Homo sapiens: one gene and its partner. The protein of the gene in region 2 purifies or fractionates together with the protein of the main gene of each other region. This does not show direct contact. Each region holds a gene or a part of one and is shown on either strand. Other genes may lie near its edges.

The links.
Region 1: the proteins of MTFR2 (region 2) and SPTB purify together in Homo sapiens (affinity purification with mass spectrometry; one large-scale study listed by BioGRID and IntAct). This does not show direct contact.

The regions. Positions count from the first base shown.
Region 1 is NC_000014.9:64,748,328-64,751,216, reverse strand, and holds part of SPTB (spectrin beta chain, erythrocytic), read left to right. Parts: intron 1-967; exon of another isoform or gene 968-1,062; coding exon 1,063-1,236; exon of another isoform or gene 1,237-1,520; coding exon 1,521-1,563; exon of another isoform or gene 1,564-1,743; coding exon 1,744-1,911; 3' UTR 1,912-2,889.
Region 2 is NC_000006.12:136,243,720-136,247,546, reverse strand, and holds part of MTFR2 (mitochondrial fission regulator 2), read left to right. Parts: exon of another isoform or gene 1-86; intron 87-2,677; coding exon 2,678-2,782; intron 2,783-3,827. UniProt on the Homo sapiens protein: May play a role in mitochondrial aerobic respiration essentially in the testis. Can also promote mitochondrial fission.

The DNA of each region.
Region 1 (2,889 bases), on a different chromosome or scaffold from region 2:
ACCTGGGAGGCGGAGGTTGCAGTGAGCTGAGACTGCACCACTGCATTCTAGCCTGAGTGACAGAGGCTCTGTCTAAAAATATGTATATTATATATAAATATTATATATTATATATATTATGTATAATATATAAATGTTATATACTATAAATGTTATATATTATATAATATATAATTGCTACATATATAATATATAACATAATGTATAATATATAATGTATTATATATAATGTATAAAATATACATTATATGATGTATAAAATATGTATTATATAGTATATGATATATAATGTAATATACATATTTTATATATTTATATATTTCATATAAATATATATTATACATAATAGGTATATATGTTATATAATAAATATGTAAATATTATATAAATTATATAATAAAAGTATATATAAATATATATTACATATATACTTTTTTTTTGAGACTAAGTCTCGTCTCTGTCACCCAGGCTGAAGTGCAGTGGCTCAATCTCGGCTCACTACAAGCTTCGCCTCCCGGGTTCAAGCGATTCTCCTGTCTCAGCCTCCTGAGTAGCTGAGACTGCAGGCATGCGCCACCAAGCCCGGCTAATTTTTGTATTTTTAGTAGAGATGGGGTTTTACCACGTTTGCCAGGCTGGTCTTGAACTCCTGACCTCAGGCGGTCCGCCCGCCTCGGCCTCCCAAAGTGCTGGGATTACAAGTGTTAGCCATCTTGCCTGGCAAAAAAAGAAATATTTGAGGATATGGAGAAATACTCATGATTTAGTGTTATGCTTAGAAACACGATATAAAATTGAATATATCCATAACCCAGTTTTAGCTATCTGTGACTAGTAAAAAAAAAAATGCGAAAATGTGAAGACTAGAAGGAATACATAAAATGTTAATAATAGCTAATTTTTTGTAATGAAATTACATGCAGATGATTTTTTAACAATAAAACATGTTACTATGTATCAGAACAAACATGGTGTAATTTTTTTTAATGGTGAAGCTATAGGAATTGACTCTAGAGATACCATATCAGGATGTGGGTGACCTGCCTGTCTGCATCTTTGCAGGTCCTGGAACAACCTGTACTGTGTGCTCAGGAACAGTGAGCTAACCTTCTACAAGGATGCCAAGAACCTGGCCCTGGGGATGCCCTACCATGGGGAGGAACCCCTGGCCCTGAGACATGCCATCTGTGAGATTGCTGCCAACTACAAGAAGAAGAAGCACGTCTTTAAGCTGAGGTGAGGCCTTCCTGGCCTTTGAAAGCTCGGGTTGATGGCTTGATTTGGCATTAGTGGCAGGGCAGAGGCCCTCTGTAGGGGACCAGTGCCAGGCCTGAGCTGCTCCTCAGGGGTTTTTCAAATCAAAGAGGCTGATGGTCCAGACTTTGACCTCTCAGAAAGTGCTGGGCTGCCTGAGAGGGGTCTGGATGTTCGGCTCAGGGTATTGTGGGATCAGAGCCAGCCCTCTGCCCAGCGCCCCCTCCAGAGGTGTCTCCATGACAGGAAACCCTTTGTCCTCCTAGGCTGAGTAATGGCAGCGAGTGGCTCTTCCATGGCAAGGATGAGGTAAGCGCGGGCAGCCTAGCCCAGACCTGGCTAAGAAGGGGGTAGGTGGAGGACCCCAGGCCGCTTGCCCTGGAGGCCCCCTCAGAAGGGGCAGTCCCAAGAGCCCCCACCATTGTTGCCTGGCCCGGGAGGTGGGGGGCTGTGGGCCTCCAGACTCCACCGTGACCCTCCGCCCCGCAGGAGGAGATGCTGTCCTGGCTGCAGGGCGTGAGCACCGCCATCAACGAGTCCCAGAGCATCCGCGTCAAGGCGCAGAGCCTGCCCCTGCCTTCCCTCTCCGGCCCCGACGCCAGCCTCGGCAAGAAAGACAAGGAGAAGAGATTCAGCTTCTTCCCCAAAAAGAAGTAGCAGGTGGGGCTGGCGGGCGCGGCGGAGTCGGGACGCGCAGAGACCGGGCAGCCCAGGCCTTGGCCTCCTCTCGCCGCCGCCCGCCGGTCGAATCGAGATGAGTCGAGTCGCGGGCCGGGCCCCCGGGCCCCACGCTGCACTGCAAAAGCTGCCTTCGCCCGCGTGTCCTGGGCCGACGCCCCCTCCATGCCCTCGCCCGCGCTGGCTCCGCTCCAGGGACAGGGGCTCCCAGCTCCTCTGGCGCCTTTGGGGCCTCCAGGCCTGGGGGCAGGAAACGGTTCTCTGAGGCACACGCCCTCCTCTCCCACCCTCCTCCTGAGCCGAGGGGGCACAGGCCCCTTACCCCCAACCAAAAAAAAAAAAAAAAAAGAGCTGGAGAAGGCTGATGGGGTTCTTCAAACGCTGCCCGTTCCTAAAGCAAGTCTTGCTTCGGGTCACCTCCCACCTGGTGGCAGCCAGGGAAAGGGGAAAGGAAGAAGACACTGGAAATGCATGGCCAGCCCCCTAGGGGCATGAGGAAGGAGCCTTCAGGTGGCCCACAAAGCCCTAGCTCTGGGCCAGGGGCTCTGGGGGGCTGAGGGGACCAGACTGGGTGCAGGGCCTTGGGAGCTGCCAGCCTCCTTCCCACTGGGCTTCCGCAGAACTGGGACTCTCACTTCAGGGGCCACCACATCCCTCCTCTCTGCTTCTCCCCCCAGATCAAAGGGTACCCTCCCACGGTTGGCAGGGCCTGGCTGAGTGCCTCTAGCACCCTTTGTGCCACCACAGGCGGTCCCAGGAAGGGCAGCAAGGTCAGACCATTCCTCATTGAAAACCGTGGCTAGGGCACAGGGCTCTGATCTGAAGGAGTGACAGGTGCGTCACAACACTGCCTAAGGCTCTCCCTCTCAATGCTGGGACCCTCGCCCCACTCCCAGTGGCAGCCAAACCAGCAATATCCAACAGACATAGGCCCCCTACGGGACAGTGTGGGCCCCC
Region 2 (3,827 bases):
AGCATATTTGTCATCACTCTGGAAGAAACAGACAGGAAGAAATTTAAGATCCACATGAGAGAGGATTGAGCACCGCCTTTGAGAAGGTAGTTGGGCAAGGGATCTAATTAAATAAGTCTTGGAAAGGAGAGAGACTGTCCTGCCTTAAAGAACAGAATGAAAGTGAGAGAGAGTGAAAAGAGATTTTTTTTTTTTTTAAGATGGAGTCTTGCTCTGTTGCCCAGGCTGGAGTGCAGTGGTGCAATCTTGGCTCACTGCAACCTCTGCTCCGAGGTTCAAGTGATTCTCCTGCCCCAGCCTCCCGCGTAGCTGGGATTACAGGAGCCTGCCACCAATGCCCAACTGATTTTTATATTTTTAGTAGAGATGGGGTTTTACCACGTTGGCCAGGCTGGTCTTGAATTCCTAACCTCAAGTGATCCACCTGCCTTGGCCTTCCGAAGTGCTGGGATTACAGGCGTGAGCCCCTGCGCCTGGCCTGAAAAGAGATTTTGAATGGAGCTAAGTAAGAGAAGTGAAGTTGAGGTATGTCAAGTTGAAGTTCTCGGTTTTCTCAGTAAGAGCAGAGACAAGGTCACTTGCAGGTAATGAAGTGGTGGGATTTGAGAAGGGATTTCAGAGATTGGAGACTGCTCTGGGCAATGTGGTATAGAATGTAACATGTTATGAAGGGATTTCAGAATACCTGTGAGAACCCAGCTGAAGTCATCATGGAATTGTAGTTTTTCTAAATATTGTCGTTTTGTGATTTTTTTTTCCTAGCTAAGAGTAATTACAGTAGTGTATTCATTAGCAGTGTGGGAGCACATAATATCAAAAGAATGAACCATTTTTGAGTGGCATTGAACATATTACTGAAATAATTAACCAGAAAATCCATGCTTGGTAGGAAAATTAGTAAAGTCAAAATGTGGGTACTAGACCAGGAATAGAGGGAAGATGAAATAATAAGAATGGTGAAGATGGCCAGATGTGGTGGGTCGCCCCTGTAATCCCAACACTGTGGGAGGCTGAGGCAGGCATATCACTTGAGCTCAGGTTTTCAAGACCAGCTTGGGCAACATGATGAAACCTCGTCTCTATAAAAAATATAAAAATTAACCAGGCATGGTTGTGTGCACCTGTGGTCCCAGCTACTCCAGAGGCTGAGGTAGGAGGATTGCTTGAGCCTGGGAGGTGGAGGTTGCAGTGAACCCTGATCATGCCCTGCACTCCAGCCTGGGTGACAGAGTGAGACCCCATCTCAAAAAAAAAACCTCAAAAAGCAAACAACAACAACAACGAAAATGGTGAAGATGGCCAGGGGCAATGAAGGAATGAGAGGAAGGACAAGAGTTTATTAGGATGGAAACTGCCGAGCAAGATAGGAAGGTATCATTTAAATTAACTAAGAACTAACCCAACTCTTGGGTGACTGTATATGTCATAGGTAGCCGTCATGGTAGCAAAGCCTCTATGCCTGTTGTTCTTAGCAGGGGTACGCAGATGAATGGTCTGTAGAACACTTTAAATATAAATGCTCAATCCTCCAAATATTCTACTAGTAATAGGTCTGGGATCTATATCCTCTAGGCTGTGCAATCCAGTATGATAGCCACTGGCCACATGTCACTTTTAAGTACTCAAAATATCTGAATTGAGATCTTCTATAGGTGTAACCTATATAAGGGATTTTGAAGACTGAGTGTGAAAAAAATGTAAAATAATCTTAGCAATTTAAAAATATTATCGGTTGAGCATCACTCAAAACCTGAAATCTGAAATGCTCCAAAATCCCAAATGTCTTGAGTGCCAGCATGACACCACAATGGGAAAATTTTACACCTGACCTCACATGATGGGTCACAATCAAAACGCAGGTGCACAACCCACAGTTTATTTAGCCTGCTGTTGTTAGTTGTTGCTGTTGTTTAACAGCTGAGACCGGCGGTTTATTGGTTGTTTTAATGAGGATGCTAATAGGTGGCTACCTATATCAGTTGGGATCTTAGGAAAAATGTCCAATTTATTATATCACATCTTTTGGCTGGTGGGGGAGAGTGGTTCCTGTGGCAATGGTTTACACTAATTTGGGAAGCCCACACTAAAGGATGAAGTATTATTTGAGCTATAGTAGCACATTATTACTTCTAATGCCTTTTCAAGAGCTGACTGCCAGCAGATATATTTCACTTTATGTAAATAACTCTGAATTGTCTAGGACCTGATTTATTTATTCCCTTTTTTATTTCTCCTTTAAAGGAAATTACATAAGTATACTCCATATTACGTCGTTGCTTGATAATTTGAAATTGTCTATTTTTGGTTGGGCCAAAAAGATGGGATTTGTAGCTGGGGGAGGGGATGCAATTTTTTTGAACAAAGTTTCTCCCAAGGTATTGGACATTATCAGAAATAGAACAAAATGAATTGTGCTTTTTAAAAGATCTTCCTGGAATGTATATATGTTTACTACCATCTCTTTTTAAGACAAATACTCACAAAGTTCTATTCTTTGAAGAAAGGCTCTGCCATTCTATATTTCTTTTTAAAAATAAATGTTATTTTACAGGACTCCCTGTATTAAAAAAAAAATGCCACTGCGTCTTTTTTGTCTTTTTTACATCTCCTTTTTTCATACTTATATAAATATGCTTAATCAGAGTGCATTTTAATTCATACTTTATGTTTAAAATAGGTTTTGCTGATTTGGGAAAATAAAGACTATGGATCAACTAGGAGTATTGTTCGTATTATTGGGAAAATGCTTCCACTGGAACCTTGTCGAAGACCTAATTTTGAGGTAAGTCAGTCAACATAAATTGTTTAAGTACCAAGTACAAAATAATCCTAGGTACTCTTACAGGTATGGGGTAGAACAACAAAGGAAGAAACATTTCCTGCAAGCCAAAAACCTGTAGTTTACCCTTGGGAACAAGCCATTTCATATATGTTTTTGTGTTTTTGTTTATTTAAATACAATCATGCATCGTTTAATGATGGGGGGATACATTTTGAGAAAAGCGTTGTTTGGTGATTTTGTCATTGTGCAAACATCACAGAGTGTACTGGCACAAACCTAGATGGTATATGGCCTATTATGCACCCAGGCTATATGGTATGACCTGTTGCTTCTAGTCTGCAAACCTTTTCAGCATGTTACTTTACCGAATACTGTAGGCAGTTGTTACACAATGGTAAGTGTTTGTGTGTCTAAACATAGAAAAAGTATGGTAACAATGCAGTAAAAATTAGATAAAAAATGTTACGTCCGTATAGGGCACCTACCATGAATGGAAGATGGGAAGTTGCTCTGGGTGAGTCAGTGAGTGGTGAGTGAATTTGAAGGCCTAGGACATTACTGTACACTACTGTAGACTTTATAAACACTGTACACTTAGGCTACACTAAATTTATACAAAAACCCTTTCTTCAATAATACATTAACCTTAGCTTACTGTAACTTTTTTTATAAATGTTTTTATTTTGTAAAAATTTTTGACTCTTTTGTAATAATACTTATCTTAAAACACACATTGTACTGCTATACAAAATATTTTTATATCCTTATTCTATAAGCTTTTTATGATTTAAAAATTTTTAAATTTTTTATACTTTTAAAATTTTTTTGTTAAAACTAAGACACAAGCACACACGTTAGCCTAGGCCTACCCAGGGCAGAATCATCAATATCACTGCCTTCTACCTCCACATCTTGTCCTACTGGAAGGCCTTCAGTGGCAATAACATGCATGGAGCTCTCATCTCCTATAATAACAATACCTTCTCCTGGAATACCTCCTGAAGGACCTTCCTGAGGCTGTGGTATAGTTAACTTTTTTTTTTTT